Regions from separate parts of the Homo sapiens genome. Here region 2 is linked to region 1. The links come from fine-mapping of genetic effects on gene expression. A gene starts in region 1. The other region holds a variant in brackets. All regions are shown on one strand. Distances are between the middles of the regions.

Region 1 (8,327 bases):
TGCCGCTGTGCAAAGCTACAAAAAAAAATTTTTTTTTTTTTTTTTTTTTGAGAAAGAGTCTCGCATTGTTGCCCAGGCTGGAGTGCAGTGGCGCGATCTTGGCTCACTGCAGCCTCCGCCTACCAGGTTCAAGCAATTCTCCTGCCTCAGCCTCCCGAGTAGCTGGGATTACAGGCATGCGCCACCACGCCCGGCTAATTTTTGTATTTTCAGTAGAGACGGTGTTTCACCACGTTGGCCAGGCTGGTCTTGAATTCCTGACCTCAGATGATCCACCTGCCTCGGCCTTCCAACGTGCTGAGATTACAGGCACGAGCCACCGCGCCCTGCCAAAAAAATTTTAAAAATCAGCCAGGTGCGGTGGCACATGCCTGTAGCCCCAGCTACTAAAGAGGCTGAGGCAGGAAGATTACTTGAGCCAGTGAGGTTGAGGCTGTGGTGAGCTATGTTTGTGCCACTGCACTCCAGCCTGGGCAACAGAGCAAGACCCTATGTCCAAAAAAGGGAAAAATATGGTTATTTGTGGACTTGTTCCAACCCTCCTCCTCTCAGAAGTTAGGTGCCCAACAGGCAGGCCCAGGGTGGTGCTCCCTTGCATCCTCAGGAGACCCTGCCTGGAGCTGCAAACAATAAACTTCTGATAGATTCCAAAGATGGACATGGTGGATTCAGCCATTCTCCATAAGCATCAACCTGCCTGCCCCTGCACCACCATGCAAAGGCCAAGCACTGCTCTAGGCACCAGGGAGGCATGTGTTAGCATGCAGAGCTCCTGCCTGGAGAGCCATCTGTGCATGTGTGAAAAGAGGCACACACATTCATTTCTGTATCTCTGGCACCTCATGAAGAACCTGTGCAGGAAATGCCAACCACCCTGAGACAAATGTTTCCATTGGTGTTTTAAGCACCACAATACAGGACACGGTTTTCAAAAATACATGAGACTTTATCAGATGTCTTGTTTAAATCAATATGCAATGGCTCACTCTTTTTTTTCTTTTTGAGAATGAGTCTTGGTCCATCGCCCAGGCTGGAGTGCAATGGCGCGATCTCGGCTCACTGCAACCTCTGCCTCCTGGGTTCAAGCGATTCTCCCGCCTCAGCCTCCCAACTAGCTGGGATTACAGGTACCACCATCATGCCCGGCTAATTTTTGTATTTTTGTAGAGACAGGATTTCACCATGTTGGCCGGGCTGGTCTTGAACTCCTGACCTCAGGTGATCTGCCTGCCTCAGTCTCCCAAAGTGCTGGCAAGGTGTGAGCCACCATGCCTGGCCGGATCACTCTTATTTACCAGTTTAGTAACTCTAACCAGAAAGAAGATGGGGTTAAACTCTAACCAAAAAGAAGATGGGGTTAAAATGGCTTGTTCTTATGAAAACTCAGGTTCAAATGACTTGTAGGTTCTACCAGTCACAGAAAAATTCAAACCTTAGTAAACAATCCACGGAAACAGGAAAAGAAGGCATACCCTACAGCTCATTTTTGAAGCTAAAAGTGACTTTGGGCCAGGCACAGTGGCTCATACCTGTAATCCCAGCACTTTGGGAGGCTGAGGTGAGCAGATCACCTGAGGTCAGGAGTTCAAGACCACCCTGGCCAACATGGTGAAACCCGTCTCTACAAAAAATACAAAAATTAGCCGGGCATGGTGGTAGGCACCTGTAATCCCAGCTACTCAGGAGGCTGAGGCAGGAGAATTGCTTGAACCCGGGCGGTGGAGGTTGCAGTGAGCTGAGATCACGCCACTGCACTCCAGCCTGGGTGACAGAGCAAGACTCCATCTCAAAAAAAAAAAAAAATTAAAAAAAAAGGTGGGGAGGTGATGGAGGCAGAACCTATGGATTAAAAAGAACTAAAAGGGAGTATCTCTGAACCTATTCTGGTTCAGGAACTTCCGGATTAAAGAAAAAAAAAGAACTAAAAGAGTCAGACTAATTCTTACGTGCAAACAAGTTTAGGAACCAATGATGCAAACTACATAGGTAAGACATAAGCAGGCATGAAGTGGCTAGGGAACAGAATTTAAAAGTCTTAATTTTTTTTTCTTTACCAAAAGCAGTTATATTTCTGAAAAGCTGAGTTTTAAAGATGGATTTGGAAGGAAGAATGGTGCCTGACTCTTAAGTTCTATAATATTTTTCAATTAAAAGCTGGTGCTGGCTGGGCATGGTGGCTCACACTTATAATCTCAGCACTTTGGGAGGCCAAGGCGGGTGGATCACCTGAAGTCAGGAGTTCGAGACCTGCCTGGCCAGCATAGTGAAACCCCATCTCTACTAAAAAAAGAAAAAAAAATTAACCAGGCGTGGCAGCATGCGCCTGTGATCCCAGCTATACTCAGGAGGCTGCGGCAGGAGAATTGCTTGAACCCAGTAGGCAAAGGTTGCAGTGAGCCGAGACTGCGCCATTGCACTCCAGCCTGGGCAACAGAGCAAAAACTCCATCTCGAAAAAAGAAAAAACGAACAAGGCAGAGAGGTCTCTCATCTTGAGAACAGACCCATGGTAAGATTTATTTTACTTTAACAAGAAGTCTAAGGCTGAGAGTGGTGGCTCACACTTGTAATCCTAGCACTTTGGGAGGCCCAGGCAGGCGCATCACTTGAGGTCAGGAGTTTGAAACCAGCCTGGCCAACAGGTGAAACCCTGTCTCTACTAAAAATACAAAAAAATTAGCCGGGCATGGTGGTGGGCCCCTGTAGTCCCAGCTACTCGGAAGGCTGAGGCACGAGAATCGCTTGAGCCCGGGAGGCAGAGGTTGCAGTGAGCTGAGATCACGCCACTGTACTCCCACCTGGGCGACAGAGGGAGACTCCAACTCAAAAAAAAAAAAAAAAAAAAAAAAAAGAAGTGTATATGACAATAGAGAAATCCTTATTTGGGTGCTGTTGTTTCTTTCCAGCACAAGTTCACAAAATAAGCTAGGGAAAATCCCCCCCGCCCGGGAAATGTCTTGGTTGATTTCCCGTTTGCTCTCTTAGAGCATTTTCAGACACCTGCTCTATCTTTCTGCCCAAAGATAGAGATGCTGGGTGGGTTTCTATGTTCTAGGGATAGAAGGCAAGGACTTGGTCACTGTAACACAGAACTGAGCTAGCCACTTGGGTGTCTGGTTGGCAAGTTGCCCTGGTAACTCCTTGTTTAAATTGTAAACTAGATAGACCTTCAAAGCTACAATTATGAAAGTGTACTAACAGCCACAGCCCAACAGAAATGAAAATGTACAAGCAAGTACATTTGCAATTTTTAATTAGCTTTTTTTTTTTTGAGATGAAGTCTCCCTCTGTCGCCAGGCTGGAGTGCAGTGGCGCGATCTCGACTCACAGCAACCTCCGTCTCCCGGGTTCAAGCGATTTTCCTGCCTCATCCTCCCGAGTAGCTGGGTCTACAGGCGCGCGCCACTATGCCCAGCTAATTTCTGTATTTTTAGCAGAGACGTTTCACCATGTTGGGCAGGATGGTCTCACCTCTTGATTTCGTGATCCGCTTGCCTCGGCCTCCCAAAGTGCTGGGATTACAAGCGTGAGCCACGGAGCCCGTCCAATTTTTAATTAACACTTTTTTAATACTTCTTTAATTATTGTTTAAACCAAGTTTTCCAGCCTCCTTCATTAGCCTGTTTGGTATTTGCATGCTTTGCTTGAATATTTTATCTCCAGCCCATTCCACACCGTTAGTCAACATTTTCATCTGACAGACGGAATCAAGGCCTAGGCCTCCCTTAAACAAAACATCCCTCCCAAAAGTACCACTTATAAAAATTGCTTGCCACAGACATTCTTGCTACAGACATTCTTTGCGGATCTTTGGCCAGTAACATGCATATACCCACACATAGTTTGCAAATAACAACTATTCAACGTGAAGTGCTACAAAAGTACGATGATAAAGTGCTCGCCGCTTGAAGAAAAGCACTAATAATTGTAACAAAGCCAAAACACACACACACACAACGAAAAAAAACGCACGGTAAGCCAAGAGCTCTTTAAAAATAAAAAATAATCATTCTCGGGAACAAATAAGGTAGGTACAAACTTGCCAGGTGACTCTGTTACGCTTAAAGGTTCTGGCTGTCAACAGTCCCCGGCGTGGTGGCGGCGGCACCCTCAGTCCCATCCGACTGAGGGCGTTGATGCGGGAGCCTCGGGGCTGCGGGACTGTTCGGGATAGGACGCGAGAGCACCTGGACAAAGGCCTGAGGCGGCTGTGCAGAACAGGGAGTGGCCCCGAGGCCCGGGTTTGTCTTCCCTTCCGGTCACCCCTCCCGGCCCAATGTCCCCAGGCCCCTGCTTACCCCGCTGGGCGCCGTATCCCTGCGCTCGGCGCCGCGCTCCGGAGCGAGTTGACAGCCGCGGCAGGCGAAGGCGCGGCAGAGAGGGGGGAGAAAGGTCTTCTTCCCCGCCCGCAAGACCACCATGGCCCCACGCCCCCTGGCTCCCGCGGCGCACGGCAGCATTGCGACGGCGCGAGGGGCCGCTTTACGGCAGGGTCGCGAAGCCCGAGGAAGCGCGGCGGCGCGGCCGACCGTGCGCTTTCCCAGCGGTGCGACGGGGTGAGGGGGCGGCGGGCGGCGCGGGCTGACCCGGGCGGCCGCTCCTTGGTCGCGGTCACTCCAGGCTGCCTCGCTGCGCCGCTGGCGGTGGGCGTGGCGCTGCCGGCGGCTAGGCGCGGACGCCGGAGGAGGTGTCCCCGGGTTTAGGGGTGTTCGGCCAGGGGCGGGGCTGCCGGGCCCGGGCGACTGCCGGAGCTGCGGAAGTCGTGGAAGCGTCGGCGACGCATCGCGCGATGGCGCGGGCGGGACAGGTGAGCGAAGCGCGGCTTGTAGCCTTTTCCCTCTCTCGGGGGGACGAGTGGGGCACCACCTCCGCGCGGGGCTCCCCGCTGGGCCACCCCTTCGCCAGCGCCCAGCCCCGTGCGGCCTGTCGGATCAGGCAGGGCAGAGTCGGTCTCGGCGCTGTCCCCGCCCCTGGGGTCGGAAGCGACCGGGGCTGGCCGGGCCTGGTCTCTGGTGTCTCCGGCCGGGCCTCGGTTCCCCTCCTCCCCCGGCTTCCCCCGGCCGGGCCGAGCTCCCCTCGCGCGCCCATTGTGAGGTCACGTCCTGCAGGCGCGCCCTGGCACCCGGGCCAAGACGCCCGGAGCGGCTGCTGCAGCCAGTAGCGGCCCCTTCACCGGCTGCCCCGCTCAGACCTAGTCGGGAGGGGTGCGAGGCATGCAGCTGGGGGCCCAGCTCCGGTGCCGCACCCCGTAAAGGGCTGATCTTCCACCTCGCCACCTCAGCCACGGGACGCCAAGACCGCATCCAATTCAGACTTCTTTTGGGTAAAGGGCCAAGAGGGAAGGGCGAGGCGGGGAGGAAGCAGCTCGGGCCGCCTTCCCTCCGTGGCCTCCAGGACATCCGCCGGGGATAGATTATGCGTTTCCATTGGTTACCCACCTTGAGCGAGCCGTTTGATAGAAACCAAGAGCTTGAAACGTGCATTAGGCCATTGTGGACTCCCAGTGGGAGGCGAGTGAATGAATTATTCATAGTTACCACGTTTTCGCGGGTTGTTTTTTTTTGAGAGAGTGGAGCATGTTGGGGGCTGAGGAGGTGTTGGGCCTCGAAAGCCCAAGGTGGTGCCCTTCAGCGCTGTCCCGGTCGCTCTTCTTTACCTGTGGGGTTTTAATCTCTTCAGGGAGACTTCTGTGAGGGAAGATGTGTGAGGAGCTAAAAGGGTGGGGAGGGGAAGTGCACAAAGGGATGGAGAGAAACGAAGAAGCGGGGACCTTGGGGATGTCTGAGAGCCACTGGTTTTTGTTCTGGTTCTTTCTTTTGCTTAGAGTTTCTGGAAACTAGGCATAGCTGTGTGGCGGGGCGGGGTACTGTTAGTGTTCGGAAGGTTACAAGAGCTACTGTTTCACCTTTCATAAAGGTGCCCTGCTGGTTCCAAATAGTTTGTGTCGCGTACGGTGACTCACACCTTAATCCCAGCACTTTGGGAGGCGGAGGCGGGCGGATCGTCTGAGACCAGCCTGGGCAATATAGTGAGACCTGTCTCTACTAAAAATAACATTAGCTGGGCGTAGTGGTGTACGACTGTAGACCCAGCTACTGGGGAGGCTGAGGTGGGATGACTGCTCAGAAGTATACCTTTTTAAAATGAGAATTTTAGAATGACTTAATATACCATTAGTGTTCTGCAGAAGCCTTGTGCTGTAGTAAGTTATCATTCTTGTCGTCTTTTAGTGCTTGTGAAACTGAACACAACAAAAGTATGGATATGGGAAACCAACATCCTTCTATTAGTAGGCTTCAGGAAATCCAAAAGGAAGTAAAAAGTGTAGAACAGCAAGTTATCGGCTTCAGTGGTCTGTCAGATGACAAGAATTACAAGAAACTGGAGAGGATTCTAACAAAACAGCTTTTTGAAATAGACTCTGTAGATACTGAAGGAAAAGGAGATATTCAGCAAGCTAGGAAGCGGGCAGCACAGGAGACAGAACGTCTTCTCAAAGAGTTGGAGCAGAATGCAAACCACCCACACCGGATTGAAATACAGAACATTTTTGAGGAAGCCCAGTCCCTCGTGAGAGAGAAAATTGTGCCATTTTATAATGGAGGCAACTGCGTAACTGATGAGTTTGAAGAAGGCATCCAAGATATCATTCTGAGGCTGACACATGTTAAAACTGGAGGAAAAATCTCCTTGCGGAAAGCAAGGTATCACACTTTAACCAAAATCTGTGCGGTGCAAGAGATAATCGAAGACTGCATGAAAAAGCAGCCTTCCCTGCCGCTTTCCGAGGATGCACATCCTTCCGTTGCCAAAATCAACTTCGTGATGTGTGAGGTGAACAAGGCCCGAGGGGTCCTGATTGCACTTCTGATGGGTGTGAACAACAATGAGACCTGCAGGCACTTATCCTGTGTGCTCTCGGGGCTGATCGCTGACCTGGATGCTCTAGATGTGTGCGGCCGGACAGAAATCAGAAATTATCGGAGGGAGGTAGTAGAAGATATCAACAAATTATTGAAATATCTGGATTTGGAAGAGGAAGCAGACACAACTAAAGCATTTGACCTGAGACAGAATCATTCCATTTTAAAAATAGAAAAGGTCCTCAAGAGAATGAGAGAAATAAAAAATGAACTTCTCCAAGCACAAAACCCTTCTGAATTGTACCTGAGCTCCAAAACAGAATTGCAGGGTTTAATTGGACAGTTGGATGAGGTAAGTCTTGAAAAAAACCCCTGCATCCGGGAAGCCAGGAGAAGAGCAGTGATCGAGGTGCAAACTCTGATCACATATATTGACTTGAAGGAGGCCCTTGAGAAAAGAAAGCTGTTTGCTTGTGAGGAGCACCCATCCCATAAAGCCGTCTGGAACGTCCTTGGAAACTTGTCTGAGATCCAGGGAGAAGTTCTTTCATTTGATGGAAATCGAACCGATAAGAACTACATCCGGCTGGAAGAGCTGCTCACCAAGCAGCTGCTAGCCCTGGATGCTGTTGATCCGCAGGGAGAAGAGAAGTGTAAGGCTGCCAGGAAACAAGCTGTGAGGCTTGCGCAGAATATTCTCAGCTATCTCGACCTGAAATCTGATGAATGGGAGTACTGAAATACCAGAGATCTCACTTTTGATACTGTTTTGCACTTCATATGTGCTTCTATGTATAGAGAGCTTTCAGTTCATTGATTTATACGTGCATATTTCAGTCTCAGTATTTATGATTGAAGCAAATTCTATTCAGTATCTGCTGCTTTTGATGTTGCAAGACAAATATCATTACAGCACGTTAACTTTTCCATTCGGATCATTATCTGTATGATGTGGTGTGGTTTGTTTGGTTTGTCCTTTTTTTTGCGTTTTTAATCAGAAAACAAAATAGAGGCAGCTTTTGTAGATTTTAAATGGGTTGTGCAAGCATTAAAATGCAGGTCTTTCAGAATCTAGAACTAGGCATAACCTTACATAATACTAGGAAAATTATGAGAAAGGGGAAATTTTTGGTTAAATAAGAGTAAGGTTCAAACACAAGCAGTACATGTTCTGTTTCATTATGCTCGATAGAAGGCTTTTTTTTCACTTATAAGGCCTGATTGGTCCTACCCAGCTTAACGGGGTGGGGTTTTTTTGTTTGTTCAGACAGTCTGTTCTTTTGTAAACATTTTTAGTTGGAAAAACAGCATCTGCATTTTCCCCATCCTCTACGTTTTAGAGAGGAATCTTGTTTTTGTGTGCAACATAAGAAAATTATGAAAACTAATAGCCAAAAAACCTTTGAGATTGCATTAAAGAGAAGGGATAAAGGACCAGCAATAATACCTTGTAAGTTGCTTTTGT
Region 2 (8,327 bases), 160 kb before region 1:
CCTAGCTCGAACCTCCTCATGACCAAGGGACGAAGTCACCGTGAACACGCTCACCCTCAGCACCAAAGGCACGGAACTCCCAAACCTCAGCTGGGAAGGCCTGGCCTGGCCGCCTCCTGCTCACTCCAGATGGCAGGGGGACCCTGACGCCGGCACGAGCGCAGCACGAGGACGCCGCCATCGCCGCCGGCTCCCCCGCTCTAACAGCAGGGACTTCAGTCCAAGGGGAAGACATTCAGACCTGGCTCTGAAGGAAATCTGTGTCACCATGCATTCTTTTAACAGAGTGAGGGACACTTTTGCCACGAAAATGGTCCCCGGATTTGGTAAGCCGGTACAGCCTTTTTCAAAGCTGGCCCTCGGTGCTGCCCACCCGCTCCCCAGCAGGCCCTTCAGCAGCGCATTGGGGGCTGCGGGACCCAGGACGCCTCGCCTCCCTCAGCTTCATGAGAACAAGACCCTCGTGCTCTGGGGTCCTTGGTAAGGATGAAACAAGGTGTGACAAGCACACCCCGCTTTGGTCCTCGCTGTCAGAGACCTCGGTGGCGGGTGGTGAACCAGAAACAGGTGTGGGTTCAATGAACCAGCGACGGAACGGTGGGAGTCAAAGGGGTCCTCTTGGGAGAGATGGAGGGTCTTTTGGCTTCTGATGATTAAGGGCTCGGCTGAATATTGACCAAGAATCATCCATGTTCTAAGCACAATAATCCTCAAAAGAGATGTAAGAGAAGACCTTCGCTCCACGAAGAGCCCCCTTTTCCCTTCTGGGGGAAGGAGGGGGCCCCCAAACGAGACCAGGAATTACCTGGCGAGCATAAACTGAGGGCCTGAAGTCTCGAAAAGGAGGCAGACTGGAGGTGGCCACAGCATTACCAAGCCACACAAGAGCTCAGACGTCTTATCTAACGCGAGAGCCGCCTCAGAGCTCCACCAAGGACAGACGGGCTGTGCTGGCACCGACAAGCAGCTGACAGGGCTCGGCCCCTCCGTGGGAAAGCTGCTCCCACACGCATGGCACCGTTCCAGCCCAACCCTGGGCCGGCGAACACTGCTGGGGCTGATTCCACAAGGAGGCAGGCAAGGCCTGTGGGGTCACCGGGGCCGAGCACCTTCTGGAACACAGGCCCCTGGGTCTGAGCTGGGGTGGGGACCGCGCGGCCGCCCAATCCCCCAGCGCCTCTGACATGGCTGCACAGCCTCCCTGTGGTCTGGGGGCCCAGCCACGGATCCTCCATCACCCCACCCTGATCCTCTCCCTCATAGGCATGGGGACTCTTCCCTGCCCTGCACCCCTTCTCTGGGAAGTCCAACCCCTTCTCTGAGCCCCAGAAGACGCTGGTGTGGAGGAGCTGCTCTGATGCGGTGCCATCACAGCCGCCACCCTCACCATGTCCCCGCCACCCTCAGCGTGTCCCTGCCACCCTGCAATCTGCAAAGGCAGGGGCCTCCCTCCAGCCTGCGGGACCCACACAGGCAGCACAGGAAGCCTGCAGCCCCTCCACAGGGGGCTCGGAGACAGTCCACATCAGGTGCCAAGTGCCCACTGTGCTTAGTTGGCAAAACAGAGTCTGGTGGTCCTGGGACTCTGCAGATGCTTCTGGAAGGAGTCCTATGGGGCCCACAGCCACGTGTACCCTCACTGTAGGAGGACAGAGGTCCCGGTTGTGGCGCACATCAGGGGCCCTTCAGACGCCATTCTGCAGCAAGGACTGGCCCGTCGCGACCCACACGAGGGCCTCATCCCTGCCGAGTTCCATGTCGCCACTGCCCCAACTCAGGCAGGCAGGTCCTGAGCTTTGTGAGATCCCACGACCAGCCTTTTTTTGTTTCCCTTTGCTTTTAAGCTGCTTCCTGGACTTGGAAACCAGGCCTGGCCCACCCCAGCCTTCTGGAAGCATCTAAAAAGTCCAGCTGGCAGCTCTGCCAGGGGCTCCCTGCCCACGGGCTGTGGGCGTTGGCTGGCTGTTCCCCGCCCTGATTGTGCTTCAGCCCAGCCCTGCCATTGCCCTCAAATGGGCCTGTCGGTTCTGGAATGTTCTGCCTGCTGTGCGGTGGCACAGTCCCTGCCTCTGTGTGGTGGCCCCTTCCCTGACCCCAGACATCCACTAGCCACAGAATCCACTAGAATCTGCTAGAGAAAGCTTCACGGGGGTTTTAACTCTGAGCTTAAGCAAACACGAGGCCACGTTATCACCAGGTTCCAGTGAGAGTAACTATTGATGGTCTCTCCATGGTGACCCTGGCCCACAGCGCCCGACAGGAGGGGAGAGGGCTCTCAATATTCTCAGCAGACGGTGGTGAAAGAGGACTGCTTTTCACATTTACTGTGCAGTTTGTGTTTGGGCAAGCTGAAAGGCCAATTTCTAAATATAACACCACACTGCTGGAGCAGTGGCTCACGCCTGTAATCCCAGCACTTTGGGAGGCTGAGGCAGGAGGATCACTTGAGCCCAAGAGTTTAAGACTAGCCTGGGCAACACAGCAAGACCCTGTCTCTACGAACATTTTTTTTTTTTTGAGACGGAGTCTGTCGCCCAGGCTGGAGTGCAGTGGCACAATCTCGGCTCACTGCAAGCTCCGCCTCCCGGGTTCACGTCATTCTCCCGCCTCAGCCTCCCAAGTAGCTGGAACTACAGGTGCCCGCCACCACGCCCAGCTAATTTTTTGTATTTTTAGTAGAGACGGGGTTTCACTGTGTTAGCCAGGATGATCTCGATCTCCTGACCTTGTGATCTGCCTGCATCGGCCTCCCAAAGTGCTGGGATTACAGGCGTGAGCCACCGTGCCCGGCCTGAACATTTTTTTTAATGAGCCAGGCATGGTGGTGCACACCTGTAGTCCCAGCTACTTGGGAGGCAGAGCTGGGAGGACAGCTTGAGCCCAGGAGGTCGAGGCTGCAGTGAGCCATGTTCATGCCATTGCACTCCAGCCTGGGAAGCAGAGTGAGACCCTGTCTCAAAAAAAAAAAAAAAAAAAAAGAGACAGACCACACCTAGGATTTGCCCCCTTAAAAATATAAGTGATCCAGAAGTTTATTACTATAAAATAACCAAGGAGCTTAGATGTATAGGCTTTTAAATAAGGTAATTTCCTATTGATTATATTAGTGAAAGAAATTTAAAAAATTATCAACAGAGCAATTTAATATGAAATAAAGCAATGGATGAAGACATAAGGTAAAACTACTGCCAAATACCTACCCCGCCAGTAAGCACGCCCCGCAAAGGAAGCGCAGGACAGCAAGCCGGGCCCCAGACCAGGCTCCCACCAGCGCCTCCTTTAACTGGACCCCGCAGCTCTGATGCTCAGTGGAACAGCTATTTTAGGAGCTAGGGAGAATACACCAAAGCCCAGAAACCAAGTGTGATTCATCCGTTTTCACCGTAGGTGGCCAGCGGTGTCTGGAATGCCAGCCTCTGCGTCACATCCCAGGTACACATGTGTCACCACCAGCGTGGGCTGGAGCAGACTTTCAAACCAGCACATTCGCTGGGGAAACTAAAACCTCCAAGAACAACCCAATGAAACAGGCCTCAAGACGTTTAGTGAGGAAAATGAATAAATAAATAATAAAGGTGTTTAGTGAGGGCCACGAGGCCAGAGGTGCAGGCTGTGACAAACACACAGAGATGAAGAGGGAGAGTGAGGCAAGGTCAGCTTGGGCAGTGCCCCTAATAACACCCATCTGCTGCCTGACCCTCTTGCCCAAGCCAAGCAGATAAACCCGCTAATGACAGACACTGCCCCCTAGGATGGACGGCGGGGCCCAAGTGCTCTCCAGGAGCCCTCTGTGCCCTGTGCAGTGGCGTCACAGAGGCAGCCTCGGCCCAGGCCTCTCTGGGGCGCCTGGCACTCACCTCCATGGGAGGCCTCCGTGGCCACCTTGCAGGGCCAATCACAGGCTCGGCGGGAAGCTATATGGACACAGAAGGAGCTGTCTCAAGGGAAGCGGGGCCAAGAGGGAGCGAGGATCAGGGCAGGTGCATGCAGACGGCTCCCAGTGAAATTTCGGAACACACTTCTCCTGGCTGCCTACAGGAGTCAGAGCCCTGGGCGCTTGTCCCCTCCTTGCTAGTCCAGTAAACCACAACTGACTTGCACCCACCCTGCCAGATGACATGCTCGGAGGCGGTCAAGGCAGATGCCATAAACTAGGCTTCCCGGTGGGTAAGCAAGATGGCCGCGAGCAATGAAAGAAGAAACCAGGTCAGGCGTGGTGGCCACACCTGTAATCCCAGCACTTCGGGAGGCTGAGGTGGGTGGACTGCTGGAGCTCAGGAGTTTCAGACCAGCCTGAGCAACATAGCACAACCCTGTCCCTACAAAATAAAACCTAAAAATTAGCTGGGCGTGGTGGCGGGTACCTATGGTCCCAGCTACTCGGGAGGCTGAGGCAGGAGAATGGCTTGAACCCGGGAGGTGAAGGCTGAAGTGAGCCGAGATCGCGCCACTGCACTCCAGCCTGGGTGACAGTGAGACTCCGTCTCAAACAAAACAAAAAACAGAAATCATGAAGCCCATCACTCCTCCACAGTGCGGCAGACACCAGCATGGAGCTCCTTAGAGACCTGCAGGTCGAGACCCGCTCCCCCACTCCAATGCAACAGGAACGGCCCCTCGAGGGTCACAGGGCAGCTCCTCAGAACCAGCACCCGGCCCACCCCAAAGAGTGGGGTTTGGCAGCACGCAAGAAACCAAAAGCGCCTCCATATAATCTGAAAGTATAGTTTAGGGAGTTTAAATGGATGTTCAAAAAAAGTTATAAAAAGAACCAAGTCTCAGGACACAGGCTGGACATGGACATAGGCCTGCCCTCCCTTTGAGGCTGGGGTGACAAAAAACATCAGGCCCCACCACGCACTCTGAGCTCCCACACTACAGTGAGAAGCGTCACCCACTGGCTGGTGGGGCTCCCACAGTCAACTAATTCTCAGCCCCCCAAGAACTCGCCAATCAAAAAACAATTTAAATGCATGTATCAATGCACCTTTATTGAAAGATAATCACGTTTAACTGGTAGAGCGTAACTCCTACAAACAGAAAAGGAACCCACGTCAAAGATTTACCTCATTAGTTAATGAGAGAACCAATAAGACTAAAAACCCAGTTCAAAGGAGAATCCAAAGAGCAGACATGGATACAGGCCGTGAGGAAGGAAGA[T/C]ATGAGTTGTAAACTGGCTCCTCTCACAGGGACCCCGCGGTGGGGTGTGTGAGAGAGGACATCAACTTCACCTCTGAGAGACAAAATCTACTTGCATCTCAGGGACTAGAAACACGTGCGTTACTATCAGTTTTCTACAATTTGAAGCTGTCAGACAGTTTGAAGACGGTGACAGGTGCAGACACTATGATCACAGCCTGGGAGGGTTATGCTACAGGCGGCCTGGCCTCCCACAGGACGCCCAGGAATCCTTTTTTGTGGCTTCAAAGTCTCAGTTTTACCTAACATCAGTAACAGCTCTCCAGCCTGGGTGACACAGCAACACCTTGTCTCAAAAAAGAAAAAGCTCTTAGCCAGCCACAGGGACCCTTGAGGAGCTCGCTGGTGTCCCTGGCAGTATCTCATGAGGCTGCTGGTTCCCAGAACACCTGTGGAGGCTCTGGCAGCCCCTGGCACCTCACAGGGGTGAGCTTTACCCAAGCGCTGAGATCCTGGAAACAATTATGAAACCCCCCACCCTGCAGTGTGCTGGGAAAGCCTTCCACCGAGAACCACCCTCCCCATACGAGCCAGAGGAGATCACAGATGCCCCCCTTGCTTACCTGCAGCAAGGCCCTCCAAATTCCCATTCTCTGCCTCAGAAAACACTGGCCATTTCTCCTCATGATCAACTGGAACACAATTCCCTTACCTGGACTTTTTTTTTTTTTTTTTTGAGACAGAGTCTTGCTCTGTCACCCAGGCTGAAGTGCAGTGGCACAATCTTGGCTCATTGCAACCTCCTCTTCCCGGTTCAAGTGATTCTCCTGCCTCAGCCTCCTGAGCTGGGATACAGGCACACACCACCACGCCCGACTAATTTTTGAATTTTTATTATTTATTTATTTATTTTGAGACGGAGTCTCGCTTGGTCGCCCAGGCTGGAGTGCAGCTGCACGATCTCAGCTCACTGCAACCTCCACTTCCTGGGTTCAAGTGATTCTCCTGTCTCAGCCTCCCAAGTAGCTGGAATTACAGGCACTCATCACCACGCCCAGCTAATTTTTGTATTCTGGCCTCAGCTCTCTGATCTGCTGGAGGTCCTGACCCTCCACTGGCCCATCCCACCTCCCCAGCTTGATTCTTTCTAGCCTTGGCCACTCCTCCCTGCAAAAGAAAAGCCCTGTCCGGCCTGGCCTGTGAGACCCTCGCAGAACTCAGGGTCCCCTGTTCTCCCCGCTGCACAGCTCCAGACGCCTCTAGCAACAGTCCTCACTTCAGATCTCTCCTCATCCGAGTCCAGGCTCGTGATCAGACGCGCACGTGCTCTCTCCTTCCTGGCTCTGAATCTAGAGTATCCATCAAAGTGTCAACCCGCCAGCATGGAGCTGCGGTCATTCTTCTGCCAGCACCACGGATGGGAGGTGGGAGGGGTGCACAGCGGCAAGGATTTTAAGGATAAAACTCAGGATCTCAGCTGCTTGTGACAAGCCCAGATGGCTGCACGCCCGGACCGCCCACCCCCAAGCCCACTGCCTTGCGTCAGTGTCGGATATTTGATGGCAGAGTCAGACAAGCCCCAGAGATCATCTGAAGCTTCCTTCACACCCCCAAAGCACCTCTATCCAAAGTGGTGTCGCACGAAGCTTTACACGCCGCCTCTGCCTCCCCTGCCCCACAGGTTCCTGAGGAGGCACAGACTGGAGAAACGATTCTCAACTGGTTCTGCGTCAGAGCCTTGAGAATCTGAGAGCTGCAGGCCACCTCTCGGAGAAAGGTGCATGTGTGCACATGCTCCCCAGGGGGTTTTGCAGCATTTTAAAGGGATAACCCTCATGGGCCCAAACTGATAAACCAGCCCGGTCAGGCAGCTGGTATTCGGGAGACGGGCACTGGGCTGGATTCAGACTCCCCTGGCTAAGAACAGAGCTGGAATGAAAATGGACCAACACGTTTACAGATATGACGATGATGCCGATCGGCACACGGCCACCAAGCCAAGGACAATGTTACCCACCTGCCAAGTTCTACCAAATTCTCCTCTCCCCATTCCAAACCACCTCAAATAAACCTATTTCCCACAACTGGTTATCTGCACATTTGAGTCACCTCCCGACAATCACCTTAGCGGCCCCAAGCACGCAGCCAGCACAGTGTAGCTCAGTGTCCCCTTCAGCATCACCACATGCCAGGCGACTGTTACCGTACATGTCCCCTCGAGCTATTGCACCTAAAGCTGGACTTTATTCCAAATCTTCCAGCCCTTACTGCCCCGTTCTAAGTTCCTCCAGAACACTGTCTTTGGTCGTTTCTGGCCTGTAAGACCATGCTCCAATACAATTCACAACGCAAAACTCAGAGACAAAGTCCATCTTATTAGAATGGTTTCTCTGTCCCCCAAGCCCACCCAATGCTAGGACCTCCCTCAGCTGCTCAGATCCCAGTTAATCATCCAAACATGGTGGGGGGCTCTGGAGGGGTATCCTGCCACCACGCCAGCGTGGGAATGAATCTTCTCTTCCACGAGGGGTGCCACCTTGACTCAAGTGTTTCAACTCCACTCAGTCGGAAGTCACCGCGGGACTGCCACACAGTGCCTCAGCAGAGGCCACAAAGAAAGGCAGGGAAAAATGCTAAACAATTCAGCTGATACCAGAAGGGCTCTGGAAGAGAGAATGAAGGAGGGGAACACAGTGGTTCACTATAAAACAGAACCGTAAGATCAGTGCATGTGTACAGCAGGGAGAAAGAAATTGTGCTTTGGTGGAAACCTCTGCCTCATCTTGGCCACACTTTCTCACGTGCTCCTTACGGTTCATACAGACGTAGAGTATTTCTGTGCTATTAAGAGTTCGTTACACCATAAATACAATTTTCACGTGTCAACTTAAAAGTAAATTTTAAAAAAGATGAAGGAGGATGATTGGCGGAAAGTGTCTAAAAAGACTCCTCATGGTGGCGATACTGGGGAGAGGTGGGCAGCACTGGTCTCAACTCTCCAGGACACGCTCAGTGACCGGTGATGGCTCCGTACACTGTAGATGCCAGAGACACTTCCCCAGAGTCACTCGAATTCCGTCCTGTCCCCGAGGCTCTGTGGCCGCTCACCCCCCACCAGGCCTCCAACCAAGCTTCAATGAACCCAGTCAATTAGTGCTACTTTGACTTCTTGAACCTAGTTCCAACGT

What was found. PIP is the estimated chance that this variant, and not a neighbour inherited with it, causes the effect.
Region 2: its variant is fine-mapped to the expression of COA8 in whole blood (TOPMed, PIP 0.97).

Annotation. Positions count from the first base shown.
Region 1 is chr14:103,559,095-103,567,421 of GRCh38, reverse strand. COA8 (cytochrome c oxidase assembly factor 8) reads right to left here and starts at 4,462. Exons shown (of 5, transcript NM_001370595.2): 1 at 4,298-4,462. The coding sequence starts at 4,420. BAG5 (BAG cochaperone 5) reads left to right here and starts at 4,765. Exons shown (of 2, transcript NM_001015048.3): 1 at 4,765-4,806; 2 at 6,230-8,327. The coding sequence starts at 6,258. The coding sequence ends at 7,601. It also overlaps the pseudogene RNU4-68P. RefSeq lists a silencer at 4,508-5,157 and enhancers at 5,498-5,547, 5,647-6,160.
Region 2 is chr14:103,717,003-103,725,329 of GRCh38, reverse strand. All of the region lies in intron 1 of ZFYVE21 (zinc finger FYVE-type containing 21), which reads right to left. Among named protein-coding and RNA genes, the nearest start is that of ZFYVE21, 5.4 kb to the right of the region's middle. RefSeq lists enhancers at 3,528-4,028, 6,646-7,156. The variant T/C (reference allele first, on the strand shown) is at 5,161.